2 separate regions of the Homo sapiens genome follow, and region 2 is linked to region 1. A link means that fine-mapping ties the variant in region 1 to the expression of a gene that starts in the linked region. Tissue or cell type: whole blood. Region 1 holds a variant in brackets; the other region holds the start of a gene. All regions are shown on one strand. Distances are between the middles of the regions. Region 1 holds the start of TXNRD1-AS1 (TXNRD1 antisense RNA 1). Region 2 holds the start of EID3 (EP300 interacting inhibitor of differentiation 3).

Region 1 (8,000 bases):
CAGGGTTTCACCACGTTGGCCAGGCTGGTCTTGATCTCCTGACCTCGTGATCCGCCCGCCTCGGCCTCCCAAAGTGTTGGGATTACAGGCGTGAGCCACCGCACCCAGCCTCTGATCAAATTCTTAAAGGCCAAATTACCTTTATAAAACTGAGGACCCCCTAACATTTACCTTGTAAAAGCTTTTTTTTCTCCTTTTCTCTGTGAAAAAGATGGAATATACAAATTAACTAAGTAATATCTGCATTTTTACAGATTTAATCTCTCAACAATTATTTATTGATCAATTACTATGTGTGCATACTATATTAAGTGCTGGGAACATGATGGTGAGCATAACTAATCCTGGTCCCTGCTCACATGTGGCTATGTACATCTATATTAATTAAACTTAAATAACATTAGAACTTCACATCCACACCTGTACTAGCCATCTTTTATGTACTTAATAGTCACATGTGGTGAGTGGCTATTGGGTTGGACAGTGTAGATTTAGAATATTTTCATCACCACAGAAAGTCCTCTTGGACTGTGCTATTCTAGAGTGAGGGAGGTGGACATTGATCAAATACTCATAAAAGTATGATTGCAATTGTAGTAAGTACTAGGCAGAAAGAATAGATGGTAACATGAGAACATTTCATAGGGGGATTTGACTTCTCTGTTGGTTTTCCCAAGGAAAACCTGTTCAAACTAGATTTGCTCAATGCTTGGAAGTTAGCAAAGCCCTGTGGTGGGAGGGAGGACAGTAATTACAGGGACTGAAAGCAAGCTAATGACTGAATCATGGGGATTGAGGAGAAGTTTGGGTGAGATGAAGGGGTGGAAGGACCACAAAGGGCCTTGTAGAAAGAAGATGAAGAAGCAGAGAGGCTTAGTAACTTGGCTTTGCAGTTAGTAATAGAACCTGGATTTGACTTCAAAGTCTACACTGCATAATAAGGGTATATTCAACAGACTTTGGTTCTGCAATTATCTCTTTTTGCTCCTTCTTTGGAAATTGCCAAAGTTCCCTCTACTGGATTATTCCTTTAGCATAAAAACATGCTGTAATAATTTCCTTCTTAGACAAACCAAAAAAACCAAAAAGTCTGGCCAGGCACGGTGGCTCACCCCTGTAATCCCAGCACTTTGGGAGGCCGAGGAGGGTGGATCACGAAGTCAGGAGTTGAAGACCAGCCTGGCCAACATGGTGAAACCCTCTCTCTACTGAAAATACAAAAATTAGCTGGGTGTGGTGGCATGCACCTGTAGTCCCAGCTACTCGAGAGGCTGAGGCAGGAGAATTGCTTGAACCCAGGAGGCAGAGGTTGCAATGAGCTGAGATCGTGCCTCTGCACTCCAGCCTGGGTGACAGAGTGAGACTCTGTCTCAAAAAAAAAAAAAAAAAAAAATTCCTCTATCCTACATCCCTCTTTAGCTCCTTTCCTATTGTTGTTTTGTTTTGTTTTGTTTTTATAGCAAAACCCCTTTAAGAGTTGCCTATACTTACTCCCTCCATTTCCTTATTTTCTGTTTCTTGCTGAACTTCTTCTAATTAGGATTTCTTACCTACCACCATTTTCATAAGTGACCTCCATGACTCAGCCCTTACCTTATAGGATTTCTTGGCAGTGCTTGAAATAGTTGATCTTCCTTTTTGGAGCACTTCTTCATTGGCTTCTGAGACACCACACAGTCTTGGTTTTCCTCCTACCTCCTGCCAGCTCCTTCTTAGGCTCCATTGCTGGGTTCTTTTCCCCTTTTGCAGTTTGAGCGTGCCAGGGCTCTGTCCTGGGCCATCTTTATTTCTCTAAATACATTAACTCCTGGGTAATTTCATCTAGTCCCATGGAGTGACAGTTAATTTTATGTGTCAACTTGGCTAGCATACGGTGCCCAGTTGTTTGGCAGATAAAAGCATAGATGTTGCTGTGAAGGTATTTTTTAGATGTGACTTACAATGAAATCAGTAGGCTTTGAGTAAAGCTAGTGACCCTCCATAATGTGGATGGGCTTCATCCAATTAGTTGAAGACCTTAGAGAAAAGATGGAGGTTTCCCAAAGAGGAAGCAATTCTGCACCCAGACCACCGTTAGTCTCAAGATTGCCACATCAATGCCTGCTTGAATTTCCAGCCTATCAGCCAGCCTTGGAGTTTTCAGACTTATCAGCCCTCACAACTGTGTGAGTCAATTCTTTAAAAAAAAGAAAAGAAAAAAATCTCTCTATATATACATGTATCCTATTGGTTCTGTTTCTCTGAAGAGCTGTGACTAATACACATGGTATTAAATATCTTTTATGTTTGACACCAAATGTTTATTTCTAGCCTTGACTTCTCCCTTGAACTCCATACTTACATATCCAACTGCTTAGTCAACCTCTCCATTTGGATAATAATAGATCTGTTAACCCATACTATGGATTTGTCCCAAACTATTGTTTTCCCCCACCTCCCATCTTTCTTCCTCCTCTCTGGGTGTTCCTGCTTTTCATTGAAGAGTGCTATTATTTACCCCATTGCTAAAGCCAGAAATCTAGCGTTATCATTGATTCTCTTTCTCTTACATCTCTTATTCCATCCATCTGTACAACTGTACAACATATATCTGTGCAATTAGCTTTACCTTCAAATGTATTTTTTAACCTCACTAATCAGCCTTTATCATCTCTAGCTTGGACCAGGACAGTAACTTCCTAGCAGGTCTGTATATCTCCATATCTCCACTTTTTTTTTTTTTTTTTTTCTTTTTGAGATGGAGTCTCACTGTGTCGCCCGGGCTGGAGTGCAGTGGTGGGATCTCGGCTCACTGCAAACTCCGCCTCCCGGGTTCACGCCATTCTCCTGCCTCAGCCTCCCCAGTAGCTGGGACTACAGGCGCCTGCTACCACGCCCGGTTAATTTTTTGTATTTTTAGTAGAGATGGGGTTTCACTGTGTTAGCCAGGCTCATCTCAATCTCCTGACCTCGTGATCCGCCCGCCTCAGCCTCCTGAAGTGCTGGGATTACAGACATGAGCCACCGAGCCCGGCCATATCTCCACTTTTAAGTCCCTGCCCTCCTTAGCCTATTTTCCACACAACTGAGCAATTATTTTATCATACAACAATCATTTCCTTCTCTTCTCTTCACACTCTGGCATCTTACCACATTTAAAATGAAATCCAAAATCCTGACTATGGCCTGATGATGGATGTGACCCCTGGCTATTCCTCTGACCTCACTTCCTACCACTTTTTTTCTCACTCATTAGGCTTTAGACATACTGGTTACTTTGTGGATTCTTGGATAAGTCAAGCAGACTCCTAGCTTAGGGCTTTAGTATGTTGAAGCCAGAATAAAAATGTGAGACAAGTCTCTAAATTAAAATTTTTTATTTGGAAAGAAAGAATAGCAATTTGGGGCATATATGCAGACAGGGTGGTCTTCAGTATGTCTGAAGAACAAAGAGAAGGTTAGAGGTTTTAGAAACAGGAGAGCTGTTACATATTGCTCTTCAAGAAAGTTCTTTGGGACTAGTTAGGGTTTGGGGAGCTAGCAAGCTCTGGTGAGTGATGGCAGTGGGCAAAATTAGTCCTAGAGTTTCAGCAAGTTCTCTTAGCATTTATAGATAAAGCTGGTCTCAGGTTACAACAGGCAGTTTCAGCAGTCAGGCTTGCAGAGAATTACATTCTTGGAGCAATGTTTTGTACCCTGAGTGCTTTTCCCCCTAGCCCCTTGGCTCTGATTTAATTGGGAATGACAAGAATGACCCAATTTTATGATCAGCTTTCACAAGTACCTCCTCTTTCCTCTGCTTAGAAAGATTTCTTCCCTAGGTACTCTCATGGCCTGTTCCCTCATAGCACTGTGGGCTCTGCTCAAGCATCACATTCTGAGATCTTTCCTGACTTCCCTACCCTACTTTATTCTTCTTCAAGGTACAAAGAACTCTTTCAGAAAAGCTTTGTGTGTGTGTGTGAAGGAGAGCAATGAAATGGGGTGGTGGTAACTGCAAGGGTTGGGGCACATGGGATCATGAGAGCCTTTTCTTTCTTTTTGGGAACAGTTTTGCTCTGTCATCCAGGCTGAAGAGCAGTGGCATGATCATGGCTTACTGCAGCCTCAAACTCCTGGGCTCAAGTGATCCTCCCACCTCAGCTTTCCAAGTAGCTAGGACTACAGGCAGGTACCACCACACCTGGCTGACTTTTATAATTTTTTTTGTAGAGACAAGGTCTTGCTATGTTGTACACACTAGTCTTGAACTGCTGGCCTGAAGCAATCCTCCTGCCTCAGCCTCCCAACATGCTGGGATTACAAGTGTAAGTTACTGCACCAGGTCGGGAGGCTTTTTTAAAATGGTAAAACAACAATGCATTTGTATGATGATGTAAATGATCAGGTAGAGAACAAGCAATTGATGATGCCAGAGAGGGAGGCTAACTTCAAGAGTGATGTTCATTAATATTAAGAAGGAAATAAAAGATGAGAATCCATACACAAGTGAAGTTGG[A/C]CTTCACTATTCTCCACATAACAGCAATTCTTTGAATGTACAACAATCATTTCCTTCTCTTCTCTTCACACTGTCTTTTTTGTTTTTGTTTTTGTTTTTTTGAGACGGAGTCTTGCTCTTGTTGTCCAGGCTGGAGTACAATGGCATGATCTCGGCTCACCGCAACTTCCGTCTCCTGGGTTCAAGCGATTCTCCTGCCTCAACCTCCTGAGTAGCTGAGATTACAGGCGCCCACCACCATGCCCAGCTAATTTTTGTATTTTTAGTAGAGACGGGGTTTCACCATGTTGGCCAGGCTGGCCTCGCACTCCTGACCTCGTAATCCACCTGCCTCCGCCTCCCAAAGTGTTGGGATTTCAGCCGTGAGCCATTGCACCCGGCCTCACACTCTGGCTTCTTAACACATTTAAAATGAAATCCAGGCTGGGTGCAGTGGCTCACACCTGTAATCCCAGCACTTTGGGAGGCCGAGGCAGGCGGATCACCTGTAGTTGGGAGTTGGAGGCCAGCCTGACCAACATGGAGAAACCCCGTCTATACTAAAAATACAAAATTAGCCAGGCGTGGTGGCACATGCCTATAATCCCATCTACTCAGGAGGCTGAGGCAGGAGAATCACTGGAACCTGAGAGGCGGAGGCTGCGGTGAGCCGAGATAGTGCCATTGCCCTCCAGCCAGGGCAACAAGAACAAAACTCTCTCTCTCAAAATAAATAAATAAATAAAAATAAAATGAAATCCAAAATCCTGACTGTGGCCTGATAATGGGTCTGACCTCTGGCTACTCCTGACTTCACTACCTACCACTTTTTTTCTCATCAGGAAATAATAAGAGTGAAGGCAGAGAATATGGCAGCTTGCTGGTTAAGGGAGTTCTGTCTGATTGATGCTATTTTCTTAAAGTAGAAAGTAGGTCATGAGCTAATGCAAGGTGTAGGGGCATTAGAAGTTTGAGGAAAGAGGGATACGTGTGAAATGGTCATTTTGGATCCTGAGAAAACAAATATTCCAGGGATGCAAAGGATTGCTGGGCAACCTTGAGGATACATTTGAAGTTTGTGGTCTTAACTTTAAAGTGAAATCACTTTTAATTTCTGTGTTTCCTTCAGCAATGTTTCCTGCTTTAAGTGGAGTACAGAATATGTGGACAGCTAGGTTCAGCAAGGGTGGGCCTTGCCATGTCAACGCGACTGAGAAGCTTGGACTTCATATTGAGGGCCCTAGAGAGCTACTGAAGGTTTGAGTAAAGAAGATTTAGGTGTTAGAAAGATCATTCTAGCTCAGTATGGTGTGTGTGTGTGTATGAGAGAAAGGCTTATTATAGGTAGAACAGTAGTTTAATACAATAGGAGCCTTTATCAAACACCTGCATAAATTTGTTATAGCTTAGATGACAGTTCAGGAACATAGAGAGGTCTATTTCCAGCATTTTCTGAGTACCTACTATATACCAGATTCTGTAAAGACAAAATAAACAAGGGTTTGCCTATCCAAAGCTCTTGTAGAAGATTTGTAATTATTATTAGGTATTTGGGGGACAAAGAAGAGGGAAGGAGCAATTAACACTGGGTGAAAATCCAGGAAGACTCCCAGAGGAGGTGACATTTCAGATGAGCTTTGAAGGACTAGGCCCTTAGGGAGGGAAGATAATTCTGAAAAGGAAGAATGAGCCCAGTCAAGAGATGCGAAATGTATGATTAAAACATTTTATGTTTATGATTTGCTACGGCCAGGCACAGTGGCTCACACCTGTAATCCCAGCACTTTGGGAGGCTGAAGCAGACGGATCCCTTGAGGCTAGGAGTTTGACCATCCTGGCCAACGTGTTGAAACCCCATTTCTACTAAAAATACAAAAAATTAGCCAGGTGTGGTGGTGCATGCCTGTAGTCCCAGCTACTTGGGAGGCTGAGGCATGAGAATCGCTGGAAGCAGGGAGGTGGAGGTTGCAGTGAGCTGAGATGCGCCACTGCACTCCAGCCAGAGCAACAGAGCAAGAGACTGTCAAACAAACAAACAAACAAACAAATAAATAAATAAATTGCTGCATGATGAGAAATGGTGGAAGAAGATGAGGTTCTTCTTCCATTAACCAGCAACTAAATAGAACTAAGGAGTTTTTCCTCTAGAATTCACGACAAGGGTAAGGCATCTGGGCTCTTAACAGCAGCAAGAAGGATTTGAAAGAAAAGAAGATGGTTTTAAAATGGTGATTTTAATTTAAAGAAAAATAACTACATGGTGCTACTCTGGGCATCTTTGCTATAATTTGCTCACTTAGGAACAATGTGAAGTTAAAATGCCTTATCTAGCCTGTTTTGGAATGCCGTTAGAAAATATTAATTATAATCACTCTGAGCTGTCTATACAAGATGCTTTTAATGGCAAGCCTCTTCAAATCAATCCTTATTACTTGCTTTTAGTACATTATTTCAAGTTAAATGATCCTTCTGTGTCCTAAGTCATGCTTTTGAAATAAGGTGTATTTTCAATATATTTCTAAGAATGAGGAGTTTATGACCCTGGTTCATGGGTCATTCGGTAGACTAAATGAGATAAAGGCATATAAAATTATTAATACAGAACTTGGCTTGGGAGCCAGGAGTAAATGTTTTTTGTTCTCCCTTAGACCCAGTCTTTTCATGTTTTTCCTTCTTTCCTCCTTAAATCACATTGTTTCCTCAACACCCACGTACTAGATCCATTCTCTGTTCTAGGGACTCCAGAATCAGGTGAAACACTCATGTCAATAATCAAACACTCATGTCAATAATCACCTTACAGGGGAAGTGTCAAGTTAGTGTGTGTAGTGTGTGTGTGTGCCCATTTAGAGGGTGAAGAAGCTAAATCAAGCCTCTGAGTTTCACCTTGGAAGGGCCTGGCAGGACCTGGCAGTGGTTGCCTGTTTGTTTAGAGGGAGTGTGGCTTCTGCTGGCTGTTAGGAGCCCGCAACGCTCTCAGCTGAGAGTGCTTCAATCTGGCATTATCCAAAGAAGTGGGAAAGACATTCCTTCCTTCCTTCCTTCATTCAGTTATTATGTATTTATTCAGCAAATATTCATAGCCTGCTAGTGCACAGTGCTGAATAAGAACATGAGTAAGAGCAGGGAAGCATGAGAGAGCATGGCTCACCTTAGTAGCTGCAGGTGGCTGGGTGCAGCTGGAGTTAAAAGACACTCTGAGTTTTTCTTAAAAAAAACAATAAATACCAAACTTAGAATCTAATAAGGAAGAGGTGCTCTCAGGGGAAGTTAGGTGTGTTCCTAAGAATTTGTCATTTCTTTTCAGGATTAGTCAGGATGAACTAGACATTTCTTTTCAAAAGCCTAATAACTTCCTTTAGGGAACTGCCAAACTGACTAATCCATGACCTTAAGGCAGTGGGTCCCAAACTTTGCTGCCAACTCAATCACCTTTGGAGTTTTTTTTTTTTTTTTAAACGCAGAGGCCCAGGTCACACTCCACACCAATGACATCAGAATGTCTAGGGGTGGGAGCCAGGCACCAGGATTCTAAAGACCCTCA
Region 2 (9,630 bases), 19 kb after region 1:
AAAAATACAAAAAATTAGCCGGGTGTGTTGGCGGGCGCCTGTAATCCCAGCTACTCAGGAGGCTGAGGCAGGAGAATCGCTTGAACCTGGGAGGTGGAGGTTGCGGTGAGCGGAGATCCTGCCATTGCACTCCAGCCTGGGCAACAAGAGTGAAACTCCATCTCAAAAAAAAAAAAAAAAAGTAATATACAAACACTTGTTGACAAATAAATTTATATTTATTTATTTATTTATTTAGTTTTTGAAATGGAGTCTTGCTCTGTTGCCCAGGCTGGAGTGCACTGTGTGATCTCAGTTCACTGCAATCTCCGCCTCCTGAGTTCAAGCAATTCTCCTGCCTCAGTCTCCCGAGTAGCTGGGATTGCAGGCATGCGCCACCACGTCTGGCTAATTTTGTATTTTTAGTAGAGACAAGATTTCTCTATGTTGGTCAGGCTGGTCTCGAACTCCTGACCTCAGGTGATCCGCCTGCGTCAGCCTCCAAAAGTGCTGAGATTACAGGTGTAAGCTACCATGCCCGGCCTGATTTTGTTTTTAATGATGACAACCACTCTGTATGGCAGAGTGAGACATCTGATAGACTTCTGTTACAATTTTCGAAGAAAGTAAGTGGAAACTAATAATGCAGATATTTTTCATTTGATCCCTGAGTGGAGTTCCTAGAATGCTGCATCCTTTAGTAGCCACATACCCAGTCCTTCTTACCCTCCCTGTCTATCAAAATAACACTCCTAGTCATTGCTGCCTTTTGAGGTGTTGTGGAGGCTCTCGTAACCTGAAAGGTTGTTCTTTTCATCTCACGCCCTTATTTATATTCTTGAGGCTTGGCAAGTCAGCCAGCACTGGGTTTTTAAAGTGTCATTAAGTATATGATTTGACCACAGAGCAAGGGTGGAGATTTTATCTACTCCAAAGTATTTCAAATGAGTGAGTCCAGATTATTTAGTGAGACTCTTTTACTTCTCCAATAATAATGCCATCTTATTTGAATAAAGCAGTTATTCAAAGCCTCTTTTAGATACTAGACTTAAGAATCTGCTGAAATCTAAGGAGCTATTCCTGAGAAAAATGCACATAAATAATTTTGCATATAAACTCAGACTATTTGTGGATCTGCTTCAGAATATCTGGTACAGAGAATTACCCTTCAAAGTGTTACTGTACACACTTTGAATAGTTGAAGCCTTCGTAGGTTTTTAAAATTTTGTTATATGGCAAATTTCTTTTCACTGGTATTTGTTATAGTGGAATATATTCCTGTGTTCCTCCTTACTGATTTAACCTTTAAAAATATTTTTCTGGGGCCGGGCGCAGTGGCTCACACCTGTAATCCCAGCACTTTGGGAGGCTGAGGCAGGTGGATCACGAGATGAGGAGTTTGAGACTAGCCTGGCCAACATGGAGAAACCCCATCTCTACTAAAAATACAAAACTTAGCTGGGCGCGGTGGCACACACGTGTAATCCCAGCTACTCGGGAGGCTGAGTCAGGAGAATCACTTGAACCCGGGAGGCGGAGGTTGTAGTGAGCTGAGATCACACCATTGCACTCTAGCTTGGGCAACCAAGCGAGACTCTATCTAAAATAAAAATAAAAAATAAAAAAAATTAAATTTTTTTCTGTTCCTAAAGCAACATTCAGAAGTGAAACTACTGGTTTGTATACAGTTTTTTTTTTTACATTTGCTATCTTTGGGATTGTTTGATTTATTAAGTACCTACTCAGTAGTTGAAAACACTGTCAGATATATTACATAATTTTCATTCACTGTAGTAATTATATGGTATAAATACAGTTGTCCCTCGGTATCTTCAGGGGATTGGTTCCAGGACCCTTGTGTATACCCAAATTCATACATACTCAAGTCCCAAAGTCCACCCTGTGGAACCAGCATATATGGAAAGTCAGCTCTCTGTATTCACCGGATGTGAAACATCACATCTCACAAATACAGTATTTATTTCTTTATTTCTCACAAGCTTTTTCCTCTTTAAGGAGCAGGCAGACCTGTATTTTTTATTGCTTTTGGTATAAGTGGATCTGTGCAATTCAAAGCTGTTTCCTTCAAGGGTCAACTGCAGTAGTATTCCCGTCTTATAAATAAAGACACTGGAGGCTGAGAGGTTAAGCAAGCTGGCTAAGATAATACTAATAGGTAATAGGTCAAGATTGGAACCCAGATCGTCCCCTCCCACAGTCTGTGGTCTTTTCAGAAACTAATTTTCATTAAAAAAAAAAATACAGATATCTGTCTTATCATAGCAAAGTTCACCTTTAATAATAACAAAACACAAAATATATACACACAAACATAACTTTAAAGAAAATTACGATGAAAGAGAAACTGCCAGGCACAGTGGCTCACGCATGTAATCCCAGCATTTTGGGAGGCTGAGGCGGGCGGATCACGAGGTCAGGAGTTCGAGACCAGCCTGGTCAACATGCTGAAACCCTGTCTCTACTAAGAATACAAAAATTAGCCAGGCGTGGTGACTCGTGCCTGTAATCCCAGCTACTCGGGAGGCTGAGGCAGGAGAATCACTTGAGTCCGGGGGGTGTAGGTTGCAGTGAGCCGAGATCGTGCCATTGCACTCCAGCCTGGGTGACAAGAACAAGACTCCGTCTCAAAAAAAAAAAAAAAAAAGTTAAGATGAAAGAGAAACTATACCTAATGTCCTGCTAATTCTGGCAAATCAAACTAGGAATTTTACCACATTTCTTCACAACTCAATATTAAACAGAAGCCATGGTGGTATGAAGGGAGAAAAGCTGCTATGAAAGAAGGAACAGAAAAGTTTAGGGAGGTAGCTATTAGGATAAGTGTATATGTTAGAGTGTGGGACTCAAACCTGACTGATTCCTGGCTTTGGCTCCAAAAAGTCTCTTAAAAATCCATTTGTTATAGGTAAGTGTTAACAGCAAAACCTCACTGGAGAAAAATAGTGGACTCGTGACTTCTTCCTTTATTTGGTTACAGGGAGACATGTGACCTTTGTCATCCACCCTATCACGTTTGTGTTGAGCAGTATGGGTTGTGGGAAAGAGCTCAAGAATGCTTGGAATTAACCTAAACTCCTAGAAAAGGAACTGAAAATATAGGAGAAAAGGGTGAAGAAAAGAGGAAAGGAAATGGAGGTCTGTATTGAACCCTGGGTAGCAACTCTTGAGCGAAGAAAGAGGAAAAAGGGGAAAGAGGGGAGCTAAATTATCTCTGAGGCAACTCAGTCTCATGGTTGCCTGAACTAGTCTATACTGCGGGAATAAGGTAGACGCCACTGGTTTCTTTGAAGTACCAGTGCGCTTCTTGCTTTCTATTCCTGGTCACAGACAAATTTATCAGTAGTGCAGTTTCTTCTTTTTAAGCTTCATTTAAATAATTATTAGTAGCACTTGGACCTTAGGTTAGGAAATCACTGTTTAATGACTTAAAGATTAACCGGCATGGAAATCCCATTCTTTATATGATTGGGGAGAGTTATTGAACTTGAGATTGTTTTACTTTGTAGCAATGTCTAAAGGCAGATTTGTTTTGTTTTGTTTTGTTTTTGAGGCGGGGTTTCGCTCTTGTTGCCCAGGCTGGAGTGCAATGGTGCAATCTTGTCTCACCCGCAACCTCTGCCTCCCAGGTTGAAGTAGCAGGGATTACAGGCATGTGCCACCACGCCCAGCTAATTTTCTATTTTTAGTAGAGACGTGGTTTCTCCATATTGATCAGGCTGGTCTCAAACTCCTGACCTCAGGTGAGCCACCCACCTCGGCCTCCCAAAGTGCTGGGATTACAGGTGTCAGCCACCGCACCTGGCCTAAAGGCAGATTTTTAAAGGTGGAACATAATGCAAGTCTGCCTTTCTTAGGATGATCTAAGTTACATGTTAATAAAGTTCTTGGAGATCTAGCATAGAATGCATTCAGCACTGTAAATCACAACTTAATGTTTGCCTCGATATGCTCTGTTGCTCTGAGCAAGTTGTGTGGGCTGTTATCTCCTGAGAAATCCCTGTAAATGGTATTAGTAATACTTTATAAGCAGGTTGGGAGAATATAGTTTTCTAAGGCATTTTGAAATTCTTAGATGAAAGGGTCTTTATGTAGCAAATTGGTGTCAGCCTATTTTCCTTCCTCTGAGCCAGAAGAAAATAGGCACCATAGGGTGGGAAGGGTTGGCTTATCTGTTAGAGTTCTTTTGTAAGTAGCTTTTGTTGAATTTTTTTTTTGAGATGGAGTCTCGCTCTGTCGCCCAGGCTGGAGTGCAGTGGCGCGATCTTGGCTCACTGCAAGCTCCGTCTCCTGGGTTCAGGCTAGTCTCCTGCCTCAGCCTCCAGAGTAGCTGGGACTACAGGCGCCTGCAACCACGCCCGGCTAATTTTTTGTATTTTTAGTAGAGACGGGGTTTCACCGTGTTAGCCAGGACGGTCTTGATCTCCTGACCTCGTGATCCGCCCGCCTCAGCCTCCCAAAGTGCTGGGATTACAGGCGTGAGCCACCGTGCCCGGCTGCTTTTGTTGAATTTAAAGTGGATGTGAGAAGCTCCTAAGAATATCGTTCACTGTAAAAGCAGACTTTTTTGGATTTGGGTCTTGGAATTCTTAACTGTATTTTCACCTAAGATTTAAAACAAGTTCAAATACTAGTTTGTAATTGGCCAGACTAGGGACAGATACGATCCTTGAATGATCCTGGGTCTCAACTTACCTTTCTTTCATTTTTCCTTTATTTTAGAAGAGGGATAAGAACTTTTTCTGAAGAGCAGTCAACTTTTCCTTTCAGTGTGTAGGATTAATTCCACGAATCTGTGAACTTAAATCTTTGCTGCCAAATAACTTGCAGTAGATGCTGGGATAGTTTTAAATCTATTTTAAGTTATACATTCAGTACATAAGTGCATCTCCGTGTAAAAACAGCTATGTTTGGAAGATCTAAAACGCAGCTTTTGTTTTTGAGAAGCCAACAATCTAATAGGGTAGGATCATATATATGTACAACTAACCGTAATGCATGGTGTTTTGAAAAATGCACGTATCTCCCTGAATTACCCCTAGTTAATAAAATAATTGGGAGCAAATGGTAATATAAGGATTTTGGAGTAACTTAATACTACTAGATTTTGCTGTTTATACATTTACAAAAAACTTTCTGCTAATGCTAAAGAAATAGAACAAGTCTATATGCATAAAGGAAGGTAGGGCTAATTTACTTCCTGGTGCTATGAAACTGGCAATTGGACAGGTGCAATTGTGGGTGTCTTTTTTTTTTTAAGGTGTACCTGTTGCAGGTTTGAAAAGCTGTTGATGCTCATGGGTTGTTTGTGTGCATGTTCTCTTTAAAAACCAGATGTATTCATTCCCTTTTTTTTTTTTTTTTTTTTTGAGACGGAGTCTCGCTCTATAGCCCAGGCTGGAGTGCAGTGGCCCGATCTCGGCTCACTGCAAACTCCGCCTCCTGGGTTCACGCCATTCTTCTGCCTCAGCCTACCGAGTAGCTGGGACTATAGGCGCCTGCCACCGCGCCCGGCTAATTTTTTGTAGTTTTAGTAGAGACGGGGTTTCACCGGGTTAGCCAAGATGGTCTCGATCTCCTGACCTCGTGATCCGCCCGCCTCGGCCTCCCAAAGTGCTGGGATTGCAGGCGTGAGCCACCGCGCCCGGCCATTCCCATTGTTATGTATACTTTGCTATTTGCTGCTGGTGAGACAGATAAGGAGTCACGTCTTTAACTGCACTTGAGTTTCCAGTGACCCCATTAAATCCAATGGGTAAATTTTCCCACGCAGATTACTCACCCAGTTTACAGATTAAGCTTTCATATCCTTAGACTGTATCTGAAATTTTCATAGCTTTGCCCACCTTTTAGGGTTCAGAGTTACTACCCATTCAGTGTCGGTGGCCTTTAGCTGTTGGCAAGCTTCCAAGTAAATAGCTCTTTTGCAGAGATCTCTACCCATTCTATTCTTCCACTCCTGGGTAGTGGAGAACCAAAGTTCACCTGAGTAATGCCCGTGCCCAGCACCCAGTTTCCTGCAGGGGTTAGCACGGATATTGGAGGCTCCCCCGATCCCACAGATACTCAGGATGGGTATTGGAGGGGGCTTGGTTTTTAAGAGGACATGTGAAAGTAATTAACCCGATTTACATTTGTATAATGAGTCCAAACACCACCTTGCAAAAGAACTGAGAGTTTAGCCTGCTTAATGGAGTTTCTGCTTTTCACGGTCCTTGGCCTTACCGACGGTTTACAGTCCAGCCAGATTTAGTTCACAAAAAACCAAAACCAGGTCGACCTCACTGCAGTATATGATGGCAGCGAGCGTTTTAAAGCGCAGGACCTTTAGTCTCCTCAATAGTTTTGTGTAAAGTTGTCCAAAAGTGTTTTTTTTTAAAGTGAGGTGATCCAGTCGGTAAACGCTTTGAAAAAGAATAGCTGTCCCCTGAGCGGGCATTAGTCGCGTGTGAGGTCAGGGCCCATCATTGCGCGTGTTGGGAGCGCCGCGCTGGTCTATGAGCGAGCGCCTCGGCTTGTGGCTGGGCCGGGCCGGGGCGGGGCTGTCTTCCCGCGGAGCGTGCTGGGGGCGGGTCGCGCCGGGCCGGGCCGCTAGTGCGCATGGGCGGGCGTCCTCGGCTCTAACTGCCGCCACTTTCCACACGCTGGGAGGGCCGTTACCTCAGAGATACCCGTGGCCGGCATGTTGGTTGAAAAAGCTTCCCGGAAGGGAGACGAAGAGAAAGGAGAGGAGCAGCTCGTGATCATCCCCGGTAGCGAGTACGCGGCGAAGTAGGCGGCGGCGGAGGGAGCGCTGATGAAGATGGATGTGTCAGTGAGGGCCGCGGGCTGCTCCGACGACCTCAGCTCTGGGGAGGCCGACGTAGACCCAAAGCTCCTGGAGCTCACCGCTGACGAGGAGAAGTGCCGCAGCATCCGCAGGCAGTACCGGCAGCTCATGTACTGCGTGCGGCAGAACCGGGAGGACATCGTGAGCTCGGCGAACAACTCCTTAACCGAGGCTCTGGAGGAAGCCAACGTCCTCTTTGATGGCGTGAGCCGAACCAGAGAAGCAGCCCTCGACGCCCGGTTTCTTGTTATGGCTTCTGATTTGGGTAAAGAAAAGGCAAAGCAGTTAAACTCAGATATGAACTTCTTTAATCAGTTAGCATTTTGTGACTTTCTGTTTCTGTTCGTGGGTCTGAATTGGATGGAAGGCGATCCTGACAAGTTGAGTGATTGTGATGATAGCATAGCTCTTTCCTTCTGGAAGGCAATAGAAAAGGAAGCAACATCCTGGATGGTAAAAGCTGAGACATTCCATTTTGTTTTTGGTTCATTCAAGCTAGAACGTTCTGCACCAAAGCCCCGACTTGAACACCAGAAAAAAGTTCGCAAGATGGAAGAAAATGGCAACATGCCTACAAAGTTGCAGAAGTTGGACCTGAGTAGTTATCCAGAAGCGACAGAAAAAAACGTAGAAAGGATTTTGGGATTGTTGCAAACCTACTTTCGAAAGTATCCTGATACTCCTGTGTCCTATTTTGAGTTTGTGATTGATCCAAACTCTTTTTCTCGTACTGTGGAGAATATATTTTATGTTTCTTTTATTGTAAGAGATGGTTTTGCAAGAATAAGGCTTGATGAAGACAGGCTGCCAATATTAGAGCCGATGAATGTTAACCAAATGGGTGAGGGAAATGATTCCAGTTGCCATGGCAGGAAACAGGGAGTTATATCTTTGACTTTACAGGAGTGGAAAAACATTGTGGCAGCTTTTGAAATTTCTGAGGCTATGATTACATACTCCTCATACTAAAGATTTCTTAGTATAGCATCCTTTTTGTGTTTTTTTTCTGAAGTTAGATGGAGAGTAAAATGTAAACTGAAGCACATATTGTATCTCTTGTAAAGTGAAAAAGTATTTTCAAGAACATCAGACATTGTTTTACTGTGCAGCATATTTTTCTTAGTAATTTATAAGGTCATGATCTTCTGTTATTAAAACAAATTCACTGGCATATTTATGGGAACGTTTTATTGAATGCCCTTTAAGACTATTAATAAAAACAAGTTTTGGATACCAAATTAAGGGATATTTGATAATTTGCAAAACATAATAATTTACGAAAATCAGTGATGATGCTCTGTGATGCGTTGCTTTCTCTGTCATAGGGAACCAAGAGAATCCCAGAAAGGGTTCCTAACCAGGTTGGGCAAAGAGTGGGTAAAAAACAAAAGTTAAAAAAAAAAACCTGTCTGTAAGGCAGTGAATATGCAACATTAAGACTAAAAAAGTCATTGCAAGGAAGACTTAGGATTTATGAGTGAGTATCCATATTCTAAACAATTTCTGTTATTGTACTCAGCAAAAGTAGTGTCTCTGCTGTAGTAGTTGAGGTATCAGCTAAGGGTGAAAGGTGAGTAGAAACACGAAGAAGGAAAAGGCATTCTAGGCAAGAGAATAGCAAGGTCAAATGCATGGAATTGTTAGAAGTTAGGCACGAGAGGACCATTAGATTTATGGAAAAACTATTATATTTGATAAGCTGGGCAACAATTGAATAACTTCATCTATTAATATCCTGAGAAGATGTTTTTGTCAAACTATTATACATTGAACACAAGATCTTGCTATCCAGTTGTAGTTTTTATCTACTGAATTTCTTCTCTGGCCCCTAGTGTCCCTTTGTGGTCTTTGCTAGTACATAGAATGTCCTTCACAATCTACGCTTTTTCATCATGTAACAACTTTGAATATTTGTCCCACTTTAATTTTGCATTTCTATCTTTTTTTTTCCCCCTCGAGACAGAGTATCACTCTTGCCCAGGCTGGGGTGCAGTGGTGCAATCTCGGCCCACTGCAACCTCTGCCTGCGGGGTTCAGGCGATTCTTGTGCCTCAGCCTCCCAAGTAGCCGGGATTACAGGTGTGTGCCATCACACCCAGCAAATACTTGTATTTTTAGTAGGAACAGAGTTTCGCCATGGTAGCCAGGCTGGTCTCGAACACCTGGCCCCAAGTGATCCACCCGCCTCGGCCTCCGGAAATGCTGGGATTACAAGTGTGAGCCAAATTTTGCATTTCTTAATAGGGCTTTAAATGCCAGGAAACTGACCTTGCTGAAACTAAAACATGTTAGTTTATCTGGATGTTCTTCACTTAGTGTAAAGCCATAAAGGCTTTTTTCTTTCCGTTGCATAAATTACAACCTTATTTGGAGATTATTGCCAAAAGTTTGGGTCATTAAGAAAGTAACTTGAGAAGGTGCAGTAAGCATACCCATAAGCTTTCTTCCCCTTGATCCCTATAGGAGCTTAATTTTTGGTAGTCGTGGAATTTTGCCATTAAACAATACTTTGGCAAATGTTTAGGTATCTGTTATGCATAGCAGTGGCAAACTTTCCTAGTAAGTCTAGTGGTACAGGAAAGGGAAATCCAAAGACTCAACAAATGACACCAAGACTGAGAGGAAGGATTTTTCATGTATGGAGATGAGGTTCTTCACCAATAATAGAGTAGAGGTTTTAGCAAAAATAGAACTTTCTCATGAAACTTGGCAAATTATTTTCTAAATTAGTTACTCCTTTCACATATGAAAGAGCGCTGACCCTTGCTAGTGTCTAGTATCCTTTGATTTATAGTAGCAGTCAT

What was found.
Region 2: EID3 starts here. The variant in region 1 is fine-mapped to the expression of EID3 in whole blood (TOPMed, PIP above 0.99).

Annotation. Positions count from the first base shown.
Region 1 is chr12:104,278,691-104,286,690 of GRCh38, forward strand. The region is part of intron 3 of TXNRD1 (thioredoxin reductase 1); the gene reads left to right. TXNRD1-AS1 (TXNRD1 antisense RNA 1) reads right to left here and starts at 2,153. Exons shown (of 2, transcript XR_007063431.1): 1 at 1,594-2,153. RefSeq lists a silencer at 3,381-3,675 and an enhancer at 7,543-8,000. The variant A/C (reference allele first, on the strand shown) is at 4,478.
Region 2 is chr12:104,297,142-104,306,771 of GRCh38, forward strand. EID3 (EP300 interacting inhibitor of differentiation 3) reads left to right here and starts at 6,598. Exons shown (of 1, transcript NM_001008394.3): 1 at 6,598-8,064. The coding sequence starts at 6,794. The coding sequence ends at 7,795. The region is part of intron 4 of TXNRD1 (thioredoxin reductase 1); the gene reads left to right. RefSeq lists enhancers at 3,857-4,026, 4,565-4,734, 6,526-7,398, 6,706-6,945, 6,976-7,035 and a silencer at 6,436-6,665.